3 separate regions of the Homo sapiens genome follow, and regions 1 and 3 are each linked to region 2. Evidence: fine-mapped expression QTL. A gene starts in region 2. Each other region holds a variant in brackets. All regions are shown on one strand. Distances are between the middles of the regions.

Region 1 (6,597 bases), 34 kb after region 2:
GATGGGTTGAAACTGAAAGGAAATACATGTGGGTGAGAGTGTTACGTTGTTTCGACAATTTTTATAAGAAATGCTTCCCCAGGTAGTGCTTTAAAAACAAAGTTACAATCACACAGGACACACATGTGGGGTGTAGCTTCTGCTAGATGGAAAGCAGATTGCTTGAATTAGCACTGGAAGACCTTAACTACAGAACCTGATGACTCTCTTCTAATTGACAGATTTGCTTTAAGATTCACAACTTGAATTGGAAAAAACATCTGTGTTATTGAGATTACAGTGGGAGCACTAAGAAAGCCCAGAATTGACTTGGGAACTTCCCAATGGCCAGCTGATATGTTCAGATTGGAGCCCTGGACTTGGAGTTGCCAGATTCTAGGGTGAGAAATGGCATGTTCACGTCCTAGCCTTGTAAACCTCAGCTCATTACTTCCCTGCTTTGCCTCTGTATCCTGATCTCCAAAATGAAGGGGCTAGGTGAGACCAGGGGAACTTTCCTCCAACAAATCGAATTCCTCTCACCTGAGCAAGTAGGGAGGGAGGGAGGGAGGCTACCAGAACCCCCACCATGAAGATTCTCACCCTGCCCTCTCCCTGCCTTCCAGGGATCCCTGGCATGGTCTAGTTTGGTTACTATTGCTACGTAACCAATTACCCCAGAAATCAGTGCTATCAAACGATTGCCCTTTTACTTTGTTTACGATTTGGTGGGCTGGGATTTAGAGAGGGATTGACTGGGCAATCATCACTTGGAGTCTCTCAAGAGAGTGCAGCCAGGTGTTGGCTTGGACTGCAGGCAGCTGGAGGCTTGACAGGCCGCATGTGTGTCCAAGGTGTCTTGCTCACGTGGCTGGTGTTGATGCAGGGGCTGTCAGCCAATGCATCCACATGTGGCCTCTCCAGCATGGCGGTCTCAGGGTTGTCAGATTTCTTACTTGGTGGCTGGCTTCCTCCAGAGCAAGAGTTTCCAGAGAACCAGGTGGAAGACATGTGGCCCATGTGACCTAGTCACAGGAGTCACACAGCCTTACTTTCACCACATTCTATCGATGGTCAAAGGGCCACCAAATTCAACCACAGGGAACACAGATCTCCCTCTCAGTAACAGGTGAGGCAAGACCATGTTGTGGGAGAGCCTACAGGCATCAGGGTATGATTGCGGACATCTTTGCAAATCATAGTCCACCTCAGGTTCCAAGAAACACAGTTGGAAAACAACGAGGTTAGACGGTCTCTAACGTCTCTTTCTGTTAGAAAAGCAAAAAACTCTAAAAGGGCAACATTTACTTGTCCAGACTCTTTCTTTTTTAAAGAGCTTTACTCCTTTGGGAGGCCGAGGTGGGCGGATCACGAGGTCAGGAGATTGAGACCATCCTGGCTAACACAGTGAAACCCTGTGTCTACTAAAAATACAAAAAATTAGCCTGGCGCAGTGGCGGGCGCCTGTAGTCCCAGCTACTAGGGAGGCTGAGGCAGGAGAATGGCATGAATCCAGGAGGTGGAGCTTGCAGTGAGTCGAGATCGCGTCACTGCACTCCAGCCTGGGCAAGAGAGCGAGACTCCATCTTAAAATAAATAAATAAATAAATAAATAATAAATAAATAAATTAATTAAATAAATAAATAAATAAAAATAAAGAGCTTTACTGGAGTGTGCAGGCCTCCCTTGTTTTATTATGCATTTAAGTGCTTTACTGTCTGTGTTTCTTACAAACTGAGGGTTTGTGGAGACCTTGCATGGAGCAAGTCTATCAGCGCCATTTTCCCAACAGTACGTGCTTATGTCATGGCTCTGTCACATTTGAGTAATTCTCACAGTATTTCAAACCGTTTCATTATGATTACTTCTGTTATGGTGATCTGCGATCGGTGAGCTTCGTCACTATTGTAATTGTTCTGGGGCACCATGAACCATGCCCCTATAAGACAGTGAACTTAATCAATAAATGGCTTGTGTGTTCTAACTGTATCACTGGCTCTTCCCCCATCTCTCTCCCTATCCTTGGGCCTCTCTATTCACTGCAACATAATAATATTGAAATTAGGTCAAGGAATCATCCTACAGTGGCCTGTAAGTGTTTGAGTGAAAGGAAGAGTCACAGGTCTCACTTTACACCGAGAGCTGAAACGATTAAGCTTAGTGAGGAAGCCATGTCAGAAGCCAAGGTACGCTGAAACTAGGCCTCTTGCACCAAACAGTTGGTCAAGTTGTGCATGCAAAGTAAAAGCTTTTGAAGGAAATTAAAAGTGCTACTCCAGTGAACACATGAATGATAAAAAAGTGAAATAGCCTTACTGCTGATATGGTGAAAGGTTTACGGTCTGAATAAAAGATCAAACTAACTACAACATTGCCTTGAGCCAAAGCCTAATCTGGAGCAAGGCCCTAACTCTCTTCAATTCTGTGAAGGCTGGTGACGTTCAGTGTTTTTTCATGTGCTTATTTACCATCGGTGTAATCTCTTCAGTGAAATGTTTCGTCATGTCTTTTGCCTAATTGGATCGTTTGGTTTAACTGAGTCTTGACAGTTCTTTATATATTCTGGATACTAGTCCTTTTTCAGATATGTTGTTTGCAAATATTTTCTCTCACTCTGTGGATCTTCTTTTTATCCTTAGAAAAGTATCTTTCAAGAGCAAAAGTTTTTAATTCTGATGCAGTTGAATTTATCAATCTTTTTCTTTTGTGGATTGTGCTATTGGTGTTAAGTCTTAAGACCTTTTTGCCTAGGC[C/G]TATATTCCTAAGACATTTTTCCCGAAAGTTTCATAGTTTTGTATTTTACATTTAAGTTCATTATACATTTTGAATTGATTTTTGTATAAGATGTGAACCTTACATAGATGTTGATTTTATTGCCTATGTGCTATTCTCTGGCACTGTTTGTTGAAAAGTCTCTTTTTTTCTCCATTGAATTGCATCTTTGTTAAAAATCAGTTGGGCATATTGGTGTGGTTCTATTTCTGAGTCTCTATTCTGTTCCACTGACATATGTCTATCCTTCCACCATTATCACTGCCTTCTTGATTACTGTAGCTATGTAGTCACCCTTGACATTGGGGAGACTGATTCTTCTCACTTTATTCTTCTTTTTTTCAAAATTATTTGAACTTACCTAGTTTCTTTCCATTTTCAAATAAATTTTAGAATAACCCTGTCCATCTGTTAAAAAATTCTGCCGTTATTTTGATATTAATTGCATTAAACTTGTATATCAATTTGAAGAGAATTGACCTCTTTACTATGTTGAGTCTTTCAATCCCTGAATGCAGTATATCACTCCATTTATTAAGACCTTCTTTGATTTCCTTCATCAACATTGTATATTTTTCAGCATACAAGGTATGTGTTTTGTTACGTTTACTACATCGTTTGAGCAATTATAAGTGGAATTGTATTTTTAATTTTGGTGTTTATTATTCTGGCTAGAACCTATAGCACTACACTGAATAAGAGTAGGGAGAGTGGACATTCTTGCTGTGTTCTCAATCTTAGGGGGAAAACATTTAGTCTTCCACAACTAAGTATAATGTTATCTGTAGCTTTTTGTAGTTGCATTTTGTCAAGTCAGGAAGTTTCTCCCCTATTTCTATTTTTCTGAGCTTTTTTTAAAATCACAAACGGATGTTGAATTTTATCAATGCTGTTTTTTGCATTGATTAATGTGAATATGTGATTTTTCTTCTTTAACTTGTCAGTAGGGTGGATTATGTTCAATACTCATAATTTTTGAGTATTGAAACATGCCTGCATCCTTGGAATTAATCCTACTTGGTTATGGTGTATAATTCTTCTTATATATTACTGAATTCTGTTTGCCGATATATACTCAAGAATGTTTGCCTCTACATTCACGGGGAATATTAGACTAAAATTTTATTGCCTTTGTCTGGTTTCTGTATTAGTGTAATACTAGCTTCACAGAATGAACTGCAAAGTATCCCCATCTCATGTATTTCTCAGAAGAGACTGTATAAAATTGGTGTTAATTCTTGTTTAAACATTTGGTAGAATTCTCCAGTAAAGCCATATGAACAAGATTTCTTTTGTGGTAATTTAAAAATTATTAATTTAATTTTTAAAGTACTTATAGGACTATTGAAATTATCTATTTCATACTGGGTGAGTTGTGACTGTGTTTTTCAAAATGAGGGGGATGTCCTTCTATTCCTTGTTTTCTCAGACTTTTTTAAATTAGGAATGAATGTTGGGTTTTGTCAGATGCTTTTCCTGCCACTATTAGATTATCATGATTTTCTTTTTTCTCTCTTTTCTTTTTTCTTTTCTTTTCTTTTCTTTTCTTTCTTTCTTTTTTCTTTCATGGAGTGTCACTCTGTCGCCCAGGCTGGAGTGCAGTGGAACAATCTCGGTTCACTGCAACCTCCGCCTCCCTAGTTCAAGTGATTCTTCTGCTCAGCCTCCCAAGTAGCTGGGATTACAGGCATGTGCCACCACGCCCAGCTAATTTTTGTATTTTTAGTAGAGACAGGGTTTCACCATGTTGGCCAGGCTGGTCTCAAACTCCTGACCTCAAGTGATCCGCCTGCCTCGGCCTCCCAAAGTGCTGGGATTCAGGCATGAGCCACCGCACCCAGCCATGATTTTCTTGTTTAGTTTGTCACGATGATGAATTACATTGATTGATTTTCAAATAAACTAATCTTGCATTCTTGGGACTCACTTACATGTGATGCATTATCCTTTGTTGGGTTTGATTTCCTAAAATTTTATTTAGAATTGTTGCTTCTTTGTTCATGAGGAATATGGCCCTGTGGTTTTCTTGTCTTGTAATTGCTTTGTCTGACTTTGGTATTAGGATAATGCTGACCTCATTAAATGAATGAGAAAGTGCTCTCCCCTTTTTGGTTTTCTGGAAAAGTTTATGTAAACTTGGAATCGTTAGTCTCCTTAAAGCCTGGGTAGAATTCATCAGTGAAGCCATATGGACCTGGAGTGTTCTTGGTGAGAAGGTTTCTAACTACAAATATAGTTACTTTCATAGATAGGACTGTTCAGGTTATCCATTTTTTCATGAGTTAACTTAGTAGTTTGTGCCTTTCAAGCAATTTGTCCACTTTCCCCAAGTTGTCTGTAAGATCTGCAGTGATGTCAAGAATCTCGGGCCGGGCGCGGTGGCTCACGCCTGTAATCCCAGCACTTTGGGAGGCCGAGGCGGGCGGATCACGAGGTCAGGAGATCGAGACCATCCCGGCTAAAACGGTGAAACCCCGTCTCTACTAAAAATACAAAAAATTAGCCGGGCGTAGTGGCGGGCGCCTGTAGTCCCAGCTACTTGGGAGGCTGAGGCAGGAGAATGGCATGAACCCGGGAGGCGGAGCTTGCAGTGAGCCGAGATCCCGCCACTGCACTCCAGCCTGGGCGACAGAGCGAGACTCCGTCTCAAAAAAAAAAAAAAAAAAAAAAAAAGAATCTCATCCCTGGCCAGGCTTGGTGGCTCATGCCTGTAATCCCAGCACTTAGGGAGGCCGAGGCGGGCGGATCACAAGGTCAGGAGATCGAGACCATCCTGGCCAACATGGTGAAACCCTGTGTCTACTAAAAATACAAAAAATTAGCTGGGCATGGTGGCATGTGCCTTTAGTCCCAGCTACTTGGGAGGCTGAGGTCAGAGAATCGCTTGAACCTGGGAGGCGGAGGTTGCAGTGAGTCGAGATCACGCCACTGCACTCCACCCTGGCGATGGAGCGAGACTCCGTTAAAAAAAAAAAGAAAAGAAAAGAAAAAAAAACTCTTCCCTAATAATTGGTAATTTGTGCCTTTTCTCCCCTTTCCTGATCAACCTGGTTAGATGTTTATCCATTGTATTGATCTTCTCAAAGAAGCAACTTTTGGGTTCATTGTTTTTTTGTTTGTTTGTTTGTTTTTGTTTTGTTTTTTGAGAGGGAGTCTCACTCTGTTGCCTAGGCTGGAGTGCAATGGTGCGACCTTAGCTCACTGCAATCTCTGCTTCCCCGGTTCAAGCGATTCTCCTTCCCCAGCCTCCCAAGTAGCTGGAATTACAGGTGCCTGCCACCACGCCCGGCTATTTTGTTTGTTTGTTTGTTTTTGTATTTTTAGTAGAGACAGGCTTTCACCACGTTGGCCAGGCTGGTCTCAAACTCCTGACCTCAAGCGATCCGCCTGCCTCAGCCTCCCAAAGTGCTGGGATTACAGGAGTGAGCCACTACACCTGGCCCATTGGTTTTGTCTAGTGTGTTCTTGGTCAGAATCTCCCTGGAAACAAAGGACACTCGCTCTTCCTCCTTTCCTCTTGTCTAAGGAATTCTCTAAGAGAACTAGCTCACTTGAACCTTGTCGAAGGCTAACCTTCAAAATAAATCCACCTACCAACTCTTGTTTTTCTCAAAACTCTCAGCCAAGTACCACAGTTTCATGTCACAAATAATTTTTTCGAAGGTGCAGCATTCTGATCACATTCTGCAGAGAAAACGGATGTGTAGCTTTTGAAATATTCTGCCCCTTACAGAAAAGCTTCAGTGACAGAGATGTGATAATATGGGATGTCCATTTAGTGACAGGGATATTCTTGAGCCGGCTCTGGTTTTTGCTAACATGTGACCTGGAGCAAGTGACTAACA
Region 2 (6,597 bases):
CGTGATGGGGCTGAGGGTGCTGTGCTGAGACTACAGAGCCCCAGGTTCAAGTTCCAGCCTTAGACAGCCTTGAGCAACTCACCTTACCCACCACCCCATGCCTCAGTTTCCTCGTGCATAAAATTGGGAGCTCTTTTAGGCAATGTTAAGACTTCTCCTAGCTCTAACAATACGCAAGCCCAAAGAGGGCTGTGCACATTATGGCCTTTGTTTTCCAGATTCGAATGTGCCCCCCAGATCTCCACGCCGTGCAATTTCTCGGACAAACCAACTCACGTCTTCTTATTGGTCCCATGCACCCGTGGGATCAGCAGATGTAACATTCTGACATCACACTTAGAAAACTTCCCCCATCTGGATTTCTGCAACCCACAGGGAGTCATTTGCCAAACATATGTTTTACAAAACATGGGCCCACTGCACTCTGACTGGTTGTGGAGTCGATACAACCCACCTTTTCCCCAAGCACATGACTCTGGCCCATGCATGCTGTCTGGCTGGGGAGAGAGATGCAAGACTACTCATGTCAGGAGCGCAGGGTGGCAGGAAACGTGCAAGGTCACACATTGCTAAAAATGTAGGCGAGTAACGTGGTGGTAACAGACACACAACGGGGGTCAGTGTACAGTGGAGAAGAATTCTAGTGTCAGGCCAACTATTGCTGTCAGGAAGAGCATTGAGAAGCGTTTCCACATATCACCGCTCACTTTTCCAGATGACATTCAAGAGAGGAAGAGGCAGCGGACATCACTGGCCAGTGAAGTTAGGAGGCTTCGGAGGCTCCAGAGTCATGACAGATGTTTTGAACCTTGTAGCCAAACCCCTCCACGCAGAAGTTAAAATGCCCACTTTCTCTGGAGCACAACTTTTTAAAAAATTGTTTTTTTTTTATATTGTAGTAAAATATACGTAACAAAATTTACCACAATAACCACTTTCAAGCGTGTAGTTCTGTGGTGTTGACTGTATTCATACTATTGTACAACCATCACCACCATCCACCTCCAGAACTTTTTCATCTTCCTAAGCTGAAACGCTGTCCCCACTAAATTATAACTCCCCATCTCCACCCCATAAGTCCCTGGCAATCACCCTTCTACTATCTTTTTCTTTTTGTTTTTCTTTTTTTTTTTTTTTTTTTTTTGAGATGAAGTTTTACTCTTGTTGCCCAGGCTGGAGTGCAATGGCACGATCTTGGCTCACTGCAACCTCTGCCTCCTGGGTTCAAACAGTTCTCCTGTCTCAGCCTCCTGAGTAACTGGGATGACTGGCGCATGCCACCACGCCCAGCTAATTTTTGTATTTTTAATAGAGACGAGGTTTCATCATGTTGGCCTGGCTGGTCTCAAACTTCTGACCACAGGAGATCCACCTGCCTCGGCCTCCCAAAGGGCTGGGATTACAGGCGTGAGCCGCTGCGTCCGGTGCCTTCTACTTTCCGTCTCTATGATTCTGCCTACTCTAGGTGCTTTATCAAAGTGGAATCACACAGTGTTTGTCTTTGGTGACTGTCTCTTTTGCAGAATGTCCCCAAGCTTCATCCATGTTGTAGCAGGTGCCCACCCTTCATTCCTTGTTAAAGCTGAATAATCCTCCATTACTTGGATGCACCATTTTCTTTCTTCATTCATTCACTGATGGACACGTGGGTTGCTTCCACCTTTTGGCTATTGTCAATAATGCTGCAGCGATTCCCAGGCTGGCTGAGTAATTGGTAGTCTACAAAGCTGCTTGGCACAGCGTCCCCAATCTATAGAGAGTAGTTGTGGGTTCAAAGAAAACCCACAAGACTTTAGAGCCAAAATACATCTGGTTTCCAATGTTTGACTGGCCAGCTGCAACTTTAGGCAAATTTAATCCTCCTGAGCCTCACGCTGCTCATCACCAAACTGGGAATTACAGTAGACAGCACTGGTCGCTGTCCCAGCATCCACACTACCTCCTACATCCTAAGCGAATTCTGATTTCTTTTTTCAACTTTCTTCCACGCCCAGGTGATCTCAAGGGGCTGAGACATTCATAGTTCCAGGGATGGGGCAAGTCCCGCCCCCTTGGCAATGATTGGTTCAGACACCCAGGCTTCAGCTAATCGGTTTCTAGCAGTGCCTTAGCAACTGTTGCTAGTGTTAAGCCCTTGATCTGAGTGGCCCAATCAGGTAGAGGATGGGCTTTTATTCCAAGTTGGAGAAATGACGCTCCTCGGAGCTAGGAAATGAACAAGAGTTTCTGCAGCTGCTGATGCTGCCACCATCCCGCAACAACGAGGGAAAGAGCATGAGAACGAAGCCCAGGCACAGAAGAAAGGCAGCCATAAAAGTGTCAGAAAAACGGAGCCGGAGCCTGATTATCCTCCTCATCTTGGTACACACTCACACTCACACACTCCCTATGTCTGCGGACTGACAGTCAGAATATTCAAGCAAAACAGATCTCCTTAAATGGCAGTGACCTTACCTGAAATTTAACAGGCCTGAATTTACCGGTCTAAGGTCAACCAGGAAGGCTGTGTGCCTTCAAGCCCACCACTCAAAGACGCCAACCAATTCACCTGTCTCCTGTATGATTCTGGGTTCACACACATGGGTGCACAGACTCCCCCGAACACACACACACACACACACACACACACACGCACCTGCACGCATGCACACACACAATTAGGTTCAGAAATTAAACCTCAAAGTAATAGTAGGCCTCAATTATCCTACATAGCTGTGAAACAGATAGCCTGTTAGCTAGTCACTGGAGTACTGCTTGAAATAGAGATTTATTGCACAAAAAGCAGCACATACAAAAGTTTCTATGATCAGTATTACGGCTGATTGTGAAATAAGACATCATTGGAAGTGCACCAAAAATGAATAATGCAGGGACTGAACAGAGAAGCTGAGTGAAGAGAAGCCAGATAAAGAAGGAACACATATTTTTTCAGCCCACAGCTTCACCCATTTTCAGCGAAGCAAGGATTTCCCTTAGGGTGAAGGGAGAATCCTAGGTCTTTCTATTCCATTTCCGGGCATGACCAGACACCAAAATCATGACAGAGTAAGCTTGAAAAGAAAGACTTCGTGAAGACTGTTGGTCAAGACACAACCGGGGAACAGAAACATCTCGGCATGTACAGGAGAAGGAGTTTAATCCAGGAAGGAGATTGTGGCAGGTGGAGGGTCAGAAAAGCCACTGCAGTGTCAAACCACACACAGCGAATTATTCATTCAGATCTCATGACAAGAAAACTTGGTGTCTTTGTCTACCTGGGCTGCTGTAACAAAATATCATCCACTGGGCAGCCCATGCACAACAGAGATTTATCTCTGACGGTTCTGGAGGCTGGGGTGTCCAAGATCAAGGCCCTGGCCACTTCAGTGTCTGGTGAAGGTCACTTCCTGACTCATAGATGGCACCTTCTCGAGAGTCCATATATGCTGGAAGGGGCAAGGGGCCTCTCTGGGGCGTTTTTTATTATTTTATTTTTATTTATTTAATTTTTTGAGATGGGGTTTCAGTCTTATTGCCCTGGTTGGAGTGCAATGGCATGGTCTCCACTCACTGCAATCTCTGCCTCCCGGGTTCAAGCGATTTTCCTGCCTCCGCCTCCCAAGTAGCTGGGATTACAGGCGCCCGCCACCATGCCCGGCTCATTTCTGGATTTTTAGTAGAGATGGGGTTTCATCATGTTGGTCAGACTGGTCTAAAACTCCTGACCTCAGGTGATCCGCCCACATTGGCTTCCCAAAGTGCTGGGATTACAGGTGTGAGCCACCGTGCCCGGGCTTGGGGCTCTTTCATAAGGGCACTATTCCCATGCATGAGGGTTCTACCTCACAAACCACTCACCTCCCGAAGACCTCACCTTTTGATAGCATCACATTGTAGGTGAGAATTTCAATATTCAAATTTGAGGGAGACACACACATTTGGACCATAGCACACAGTTGGGTCATAAAGCCAGGGTTCCGAGGCAAGTCTGAGGTCATCAGCCAAGGGTGTCTGCATCGGACAACACTCAACTCGGGATTGGCACCCAGCCAGTGCCCTACACTATACAAGATGCCACTGTAGGGACAGGGATGACCTCTAGCAAGGTGACCCTCAGTGGGCCAGAGGGGGCTTCTGAAGAGAATTTCTCTAGCTTCTTGGTGTTTCCTGCCTGCTACTTTCAAACAAGGGTCCCATTTTTAATGTTTTCCCAGTAATACCTTATGAATGTTATTGCAAAGGTAAAGGAAATTATATTTTTGCTCTTATTGTTGTTCACTCTACTCCCATTTAGCAATTAACATTGAAAGGTAAGAAAACCAAGAGAAAGAGAGAGATTGCAATGTGGATATAGACGCAGATGTATAGAAATATATACATAGTAGAAATAAAAAAGGGTTGGCTATGGAGAAGGATACACAGATAGAGATAGCAAGACAGTTGGATAGACAGACAGGTTTTTTTTTTTTCTTAATAATAGGAACCAGAGGATGATCAGGAGGGTGAGGAAAAGAAAAAGATGAAAGCCCTGTCTAAGATGCCCACAAGTTCTCTAGTTTGCATTTGTTCCCTTGGTGAGCAGAAGGGTGCAAGTCCTCTCTTACTGTGATGTGAGGAACCTATATCATCCCAGGGCACAAGAGGGTGAAGTTGGCCATCTGTGCCCTTCTCTGCCTTGTACCCTAGGCACGCCCCTCCTGTAGATCCCAGTTTCTCTTTCTGCCAAAAAGGGGGCAGACCTGGTGAGTAGCTAAAGTTCCTTCCGGCCTGAAGGCCCCTCAAAGGTTTTCTCCTGTGCCTTCCCCACAGCCCGGGTCTGCACTCTACTGGGATTTGCTGGGCTAGATTCTCAGAGGAGCTCAACATTGATTGAGTTCCTCGCTCCACGTTAAATCTTTGGAAAATTAACTAAAGATCTCCTAGTAAGATGCTTGTAACTTACTACATAAGGTGAAATAGTGACTTTACAGTACAAAAACTATAACCCAAGTATTACCACCAGCAGCGGGCTAAATCAACACCACAGGCCCCGTGATCAATATATGTGATGAGGACATTACATCCTGGTGTTGTTGCCCCAAGTCTTGACGTGAATCTGACCACAAGGACAATTCGGACAACCTGAAATGGTGACGCATTCTACAAAATAAACATCAATGTCATGAAAGACAAAGACTCAAGATTTTCTGCTTAATGGAGACTAAAGAGATGCGACAACAGAATGCCAGGCATGATCTTGGATATTCTTTTGGCTCAAACAGTCTTAGGACAATTGAAAAAACGTGAATGAGGTCTGTAGCTAATAGAATTGTGTCAATGCCACATCCTTGGTTTTGTTAATTGCATTGTGGTTACAGAAGAGAATCCCTTTGTTTTCAGGAAATGCACACAGCAGTATTTAATAGTAAAGGCACATCTTGTCTGCAACTTCCTCTCTGTGTGTGTGTGTGTGTGTGTGTGAGAGAGAGAGAGAGAGAGAGATGCAACAAATATGGTAAATATTAATTTTGGGGACTCTGGGTGAAGGGTATCTTGAGATTTTTGTGCTCCTCTTCTGCACATCTGAAATCATGTCAAAAAATAAAAAAGGTGTGCACTCTGCAAGGGATACCCAGATACCCATGCAGAAGAGAGAACTGATTCAAGAGATGAACCCAGGTGGGAGCCACGATGATGCCCACTGGGGAATGAGCCTGTAAATCCAGGAGAGGCTGCACCTGCAGCCCATTCCTCCAGGGTGGTTCTCCTAGACCTGCTTCAAGTGTCATGGTTTAAATTCTCAGGCACCCCTTGGGCCATACTGACATTTCTATTGGCTTTGGGCTAGGAGGAGCTAATATGCCTTGCACATGATGATAGCTTGGAGAATGTAAAAATGCTGAGCTGTTATCACACCTAATGACATGATACCTGCAAAGACGTAGTGTGTGCATGGAACAGCGTAATGGAGTCCTACAGCCTTAAGCCAGGATTTCATGTGTGATACACAGTAGTCATGGCTGAAATCTTTCTCCAGTGTGGCTGCTCCCTCCTCATTGAACACAAAGCAAGTTATACAATTCAGTTTTAGCAAATGTCTTGTGAGATGCGCTAGCACAATCTTAAAGATCATGTGTGGGTAAAAAGAACAACCTCCACCCATACCAAGCATTTTCAGTGCCAGGCCCTACCTGAAACACAACCGTGATCTCCATTTGAGCCAGGAAAACCCGAACCATGGGGAGCCGCAGAGCCCGCCCCCCACCCAGTGACTCTCCGGTGTGTCAGTGCCAGGGTCTGAAGGTACTGAGGCTTTGCAGGCATCATCTCAAGCCAGCAGGGTCTGAAGCTACTGAGGATCTGCCAGCAACATCTCAAGACGGCATGGTAGCTCCTTCCCAGCACGCCACGCTGCCCTGCACCCACTGCTAGCTTCTGTCTATACTGCACTTGGCACTGAGAGCAATCCGATCAGAGGCAGCATGCGATTGCTTTGTTCCATTTTCCCAAGGCCCACTCACAGGGCCTGTAGGTACCTGCACGGTCCAGGTCCAGGTCCGTCATTGTTCAATCGAGCCACCATGAATTGGAACAACTGCATCTTTCAATCGCGTCCTCCAATTTGCCCAGAGCCATCCG
Region 3 (5,826 bases), 140 kb after region 2:
ATCATTTAATTTATGCCCATTACAGCTCTATGAAGTAGTTACTAATGTTATTTGTACCCATGCCAGGAGTTAAGGGACAAAAGAGTTAGGTCACTGCCAATGTCAACAGCAAGTGAAGGCTCAGCTGCATTATTAGCCTCTGTCTCATGGGCTCCGAGGCCACACTCTTATCCAGGTTAAGGAACCCTCTTCCGGGGCCACCTCACCCTGACTAGATCAATTACTGAGGGGTAAGGAATCAATAAGATGCAATTACAGCAATTGTTCCCATTGTTGGGTGTGTTGGAGTGGACCTGGAAGAGGTGGATAGGAGATGGTGACCAGCTACCTGGGAGAGATGAGAAGCCGAGAGATGAGAAGCCAAGAGCTCTGGGTGGCGTGAGGTTCATAATACTTTCCGCTGCACATTGCAAAGGCATGAGCTGTTCCTTAAAGTTCATGCTGTCGAAGTCCATGTGACCTCGCAAACTCCAGGGTGTTGTTCCTCACCCTTCCAAGTGGGCTTAACACGGACACTGCCCTGGGGTGGAGACCCTTTTATCGTCCCAACTTCTTCTGGATTGGGCTTGAGGATGCCCTCACCAACATGTGGTCCACACATTCTAAAAGGGCAGGACAGCGTCAGCCACACAACCCAGTGAAGGCTGAGCCCTGTGGCTCACCCCTGTAATCCCAGTGCTTTGGGAGGCTGAGGTGGGAGAGTCACTTGAGGTCAAGAGTTCGAGACCAGCCTGGGCAACATGCCAGACCCCTCTCTGCAAACATAAAAATTTGTGAAATAAGCCAAGTGTAATAGTGTGCACGTATGGTCCCAGCTACTCAGGAGGCTGAGGCAGGAGGCTGGCTTGAGCCCAGGAGTTTGAGGCTAGTGAGCTATGACTACAACACTGCATGGCAATCCAGCCTGGGCAACAGAGTAAGACTCAGCCTCAAAAAAAAAAAAAAAAAAGAAAAAAGAAAAAAGAAAAGAAAAGAAAAAGAAAAACCATTACTACTGTGCACAGTCAAAGGCAGTCCAGCAACTTCTCAGACTCCAAGACATCCAGGCAGAGATGCATGGCCAGGGCAGGCCCTCTCTGGAACTCAGTTGAAGCCGAGGCCCTGCCCACCTAAGAGGGACCCAGATTAGTATCTACAGCCTGCTTCTCTTGGAAGCTTGCCAGATGGGAGATTCCAATCTTCTGGAATTCCAGATGCAGCCATAGGCATTGTCTGGGACATCCCAGCCTTGGCTTTTGTACATCAAGGTGTGGTCAGGGCAGCGGCAACTTCCTGGTCCCCGCAGAAGGACCCCCAGTGTGCTGGTCACAGTCAGCTTGCCCAGCCCTTCCCTGGTCCACTCGCAGCCCCTCTTCACCTCCTCTGCAGGTTGACCCCTATGGACAGCATTACCTGGGCTACCTTGCAGGCTGGGTTTCTTGCAGGTTTCAGCCCATCGGAAGCATCAGATGAGGCTGGAAGGCGGAAGAGGAGAGGTGGGATATTTCCCTTCCCTCCTGTCTGCTCCAGCACTGTGGCTCCTTTCCACTCCAGCTCTGAAGGTGGTACCTGCTGCAGGCTGAGGGGGCAGAGGCAGGATGGAGCTGTTCTCACCCTTGCTAATCACTGGCGGTTTCGTTCATCCAGCCCACTCCTCCATAAATAGTCCTTCCACCCTGATCCTTTCCATGGAGCCATCTAAGTGGGTTTCTATTTCCTGCCAGGACGCTGATTCTTGTACCTAATGGAAAAAACAGGTTGGGACCAAATCTTTGTTCCATTGCTTCCCTCCACCCCCACTGCTACTGTAAAGATACCTGAGTTGACTGTGACCCCCCCAGATTTCATTTGCACCCCAAGGTGGAGAGCCTGAGCTTGACTCTACATCTGGCCTATAAGCCACACATTTGATTTGCCTAGTGCAATTGGCATTTGGATGCCATCTGAAGGGACAGAACTTCCCTCACCCCAATTCAGCCCAAGCCCCACCACTGCCCGCTCCAGTGATCAGGCCCCACTCCAGGTCACTGTAAACACCTGTGGCCCCTGCCTAGCCCTGAAGAACTCAGCACTGGGGCCTCTGGATAAGGACCAGCAGAGGAGAGAGCTTGTCATGTGGCTATTCAGGTGTATTTAAAAAACTGCTTTAAATGTGAGTCAAAAGAATCTTACTTTTCCACAAACTCACGCTTTTTATTTTTAATGGACAAACTTTGCTTTTTATCATTTATGTTTTTCATTCTATGAAACAACCTTTATTTCATGGAAACAAGACTCCA[T/G]CCACCATGAAGCCAGGAAGTGCACAAAATCATGGCTCTCCCCTTATTTTCTCACTCCTGGGTGCAGCTGGTTACTGGAAACGTCACCTACCTTTGTGATGTTAACATTAACCTGCCAGGGTCTGGGCAGGCTGGCTCTGGCTTTCAGCTGTAACAATAATTATATGTGGCTAATTCTTTAACATACACACGGGCATACACTCACCACTTTGAGTGAAATGGTGAAGACCACCATTCAAACGGGCACAATTAAATCTGAAAATGGCTAAGAAGGTCCTATTCAGGTTCTCAAAACTCTTATGGTTCACTGGAGGCCCAGGAGGCCGTTTGTTTCTAGAAAAGCCAGCAACTAGATGAGGCCAGGCAGAGCAAGAGTCCTTTGTAAAGTTCTCTGTCCTTGTGAACGGAGGGAAAAGTTCTCAAAGCGGGTGTCTTCCGCGATGTTTAAATAAAATCTGTCAGTTTCACTATACTAACACAGAACAATAAAGTTATCCCTGGTTCATACTACATAGAGAAACAAAACTATTAAAGCTATATAGAAATTATTATCTATTTTTAAAAACTATATAGAAAAACAAAATCTTTCAAATAGTATCAATACTTGGGTTAAAGTGAAAGGACTCAGTACTTGATCTGAGTCTCAGGTATATTCAAAAAAGATACATTTATGAGCATTCATGTACACAGAACAAATACACACACACACCCCTACACATTCATGTATATATATGTATATACATATATATAAACGTGTACATATGTATACACACTTTGTTATCAAACATGTGCCTGCCATATCCTCATTATGATCAGTGCACTCATATGTGTGTGGGTATTTGTTTGTGTGTGTGTGTAATCAGGGCTTGAACCAAAGATCATTTACAGAAGACAGATCTGTTCCCTTTGTTTAGATGAGAGCAGAGAGGTATTCCTTCAGATTGCCTAAGAGTACAATGATAAGCTTGCTTCTGGCTCACCCTAATTATAGCTGAGATTTTGTTTTAATTAAGAGCAGAAACTATTGACCTTATTGAGCCATAATTTTGAGCCAACGATTAAATATGGATCAATAGAACAGCTATTCGGATTGGTAAGACCCAAACCTCCTCTTTTTGGTTCAGGAGGAAGGAATACACATGCAATTATATAGATTACATAAAAACGACCTCAGTATCCACTTGTCTTAGCTTTTCTAAACCAGACAAAAGTTGGGATTAAATAGAATTTCTCTTTATGCATGTATAAACACACAAAGTGGATACATCTGCATTTTTTCTGTGTCATAAAAGTAACATTCGTACAATACTTTTTGGAATAGTAACTTTAAAATACGACCCTTTTAAAACTGCAGTATCAAATTATTTGCTTCTTCAAAACATAGCCATCACAAATTAACAAAACCTCCCAAGATAACATACAAACACAAAAAAGAAAAAGGAAAGATTAAAAACCGATTCAATACGGCAGAATTAACTCATCGTGCTTTCTGATATGGAGGCAGCTTCCTGGGCCCGGCATCCTCTCCACTCCTTCCCCTCCATCTGTGTGTTTACCCCTCAGAAGCCAGAGCCTCCTGAGATGCTAACACGACTCCCAGATATAATCCCAGTCTCCTCTTTCTTATTACACTGTTTGTTTATTTCCCTCCAGTAATCCACTGAACCAGTCACTGAGAGGTTAATGAAAAAACAACTTTATTCACAGAGGCTGAGAGTTTGGGATAGCAAAATATCCAGTGACAGCCCTTTCGCTACATTTTCAGTGAATCACAGTGAGCCTGGATCTCAGCAATGGCTCCTCCTGGAAGTTCTTCCAATCAAGGCTGGCCTGAAGTTTCCCAGAGTCTTCCCACTGGCCTGGGTAGAACCCAGTCGTGGAAGCCTGGTTCAGCATGGATAGGAGAATGAATTTTCCAAAAGTCACCTCTATGCCTGTGAATTATCCAATTACTCTGCCGGCCTGAAATGTCCTTTCCAACACATTGACCAACAGGCCCTCTGGATTCAAAGTTTGTCATCATTTTTAGACAAGTCCTGGAAACTATTTTAAAAGCGATCTTAAAGACCTCCCTCCCAACCTATTTCCAATAGTGCGTGACTACTTGTGTCTTTATCACATGACATAAAATAAAAGTGACTTAGAGGTTCAGAAAATTGCATTTCAGGGCCTCGAAGATTACCCAGCTAGAGATGGCATAGAGGTCGGTTGCATTTCCCCGGAAGCTGCAAGCTGAACTTGGTTGTGAACATCTCAATGTTCTTAATTAGATTTTCGTTGCAGACCTCTTCTCCCCTCCCCAGACTGCCAGTCACCTCTTTAAGGTTTTGATTTAGTATCAGCCTCCAGGCCTGCCTGGCAGGGCTGGGAGGGAAGAGCGGGCGGCTGCAGGGGGTGCGGGGGCCAGGAGTGTCTGGGAGATTCCTGCCATCAAACCTCAGGTCCTCTGGGGCCCAGAGAGGCCCCTTCCAGCGGACACCAGCACGTCCCCTTATTCTTCCCCCGCATTCATCCCTCTCTCTCTCTGCATCTGCTTTTGGTTGTTTCACCCAACTTTTTAAATTAAATGTAGTCTTTCATTATCTGTTTCTGAAAAATATAGCGACCACCAAGCCTGGATCTTGAAAAAACATGGAAATCAAAACTCTGACATTGTCCAAGGCATATCCCCTTCCCCTCACACCCTTCCTCATGGTATCCCTTGAAATATTTTGATCCCTTAAAAACAAAAGCAAAAGGATAGGACGTCTGCTGTTGTGGCTTACATAGCTGCATGTGTATTGGCTAATGAGCTATCGTAATGCAAGAAGATGTTATATAGAGTGCACTTTCTTAATAAAAATTGTTAATACAAGCGTTTTCAAAGGTCAATGCTTAGAGTCAAGTATTTATGCAAAGAATGAAACATGTTCTTTTTACTACCCAGAAAGAAATTAAGAGAAAAAGTCTCTGTTTAAAATAAAAGTGTTATTGCTCTGGGTGGTTATCAGCTTCTATAGCTGAACATTGGTCATAAATCCTCATCGGGCCCTACATCTCTCAGAAAACCTGAAAACCCGGGGTCACCCCCGGCACCTCCACAACTTCAAGTCAGGAACAAACCCAGCTGTGACCACCCACCACCCAGATGGGCTCAAAACCAAGGCCTGAGCCACACGGCAACAGCGAAGCAGGCGACGGTCATACGGGGGTCCCCGGTCGAAAGGACCTCAACTGCACCTGTAAGGCCTGCCTTGGGTGGTCTGCGGGCCCTTGCATGCCCGGGACTCGCAGGACCTGCGGTGGGCGGCTGAAGACCACACTCCATTAGACAGGTCAAACGTCAAGGAATCTCCCGCGGTGGAGGTCCCTGCAGGGCCCACGTGCGGTGCCCACGACCCCGCGGGGATCTTTTAAGTCTCCGTAGCTGCTCCCAGTTGCTGGGAAAAGTTTGCTTCGGAGAAGGCAGGCGAGCGCGCCCACCTGCGCGCAATGGTTGGTAACACTTCCCTGAACCCACAGGCCGACCCAGGCAAAGATCATTTTAAAATCCTCCGCCGGTGGGAGCTGTGGCCTTTCGCTCAGCGGA

The links. PIP is the estimated chance that this variant, and not a neighbour inherited with it, causes the effect.
Region 1: its variant is the best candidate, but not a certain one, in a credible set for the expression of LINC02188 in atrial appendage (GTEx, PIP 0.79).
Region 3: its variant is the best candidate, but not a certain one, in a credible set for the expression of LINC02188 in tibial nerve (GTEx, PIP 0.55).

What each region holds. Positions count from the first base shown.
Region 1 is chr16:86,685,418-86,692,014 of GRCh38, reverse strand. No RefSeq gene overlaps it. Among named protein-coding and RNA genes, the nearest start is that of LINC02189, 33 kb to the left of the region's middle. The variant C/G (reference allele first, on the strand shown) is at 2,734.
Region 2 is chr16:86,719,388-86,725,984 of GRCh38, reverse strand. LINC02188 (long intergenic non-protein coding RNA 2188) reads right to left here and starts at 3,894. Exons shown (of 3, transcript NR_135183.1): 1 at 3,854-3,894. LINC02189 (long intergenic non-protein coding RNA 2189) reads left to right here and starts at 4,026. Exons shown (of 2, transcript NR_135181.1): 1 at 4,026-4,220; 2 at 4,982-5,301.
Region 3 is chr16:86,579,804-86,585,629 of GRCh38, reverse strand. FOXL1 (forkhead box L1) reads right to left here. Exons shown (of 1, transcript NM_005250.3): 1 at 2,152-5,826. Among named protein-coding and RNA genes, the nearest start is that of FOXL1, 4.2 kb to the right of the region's middle. RefSeq lists an enhancer at 5,600-5,826. The variant T/G (reference allele first, on the strand shown) is at 2,259.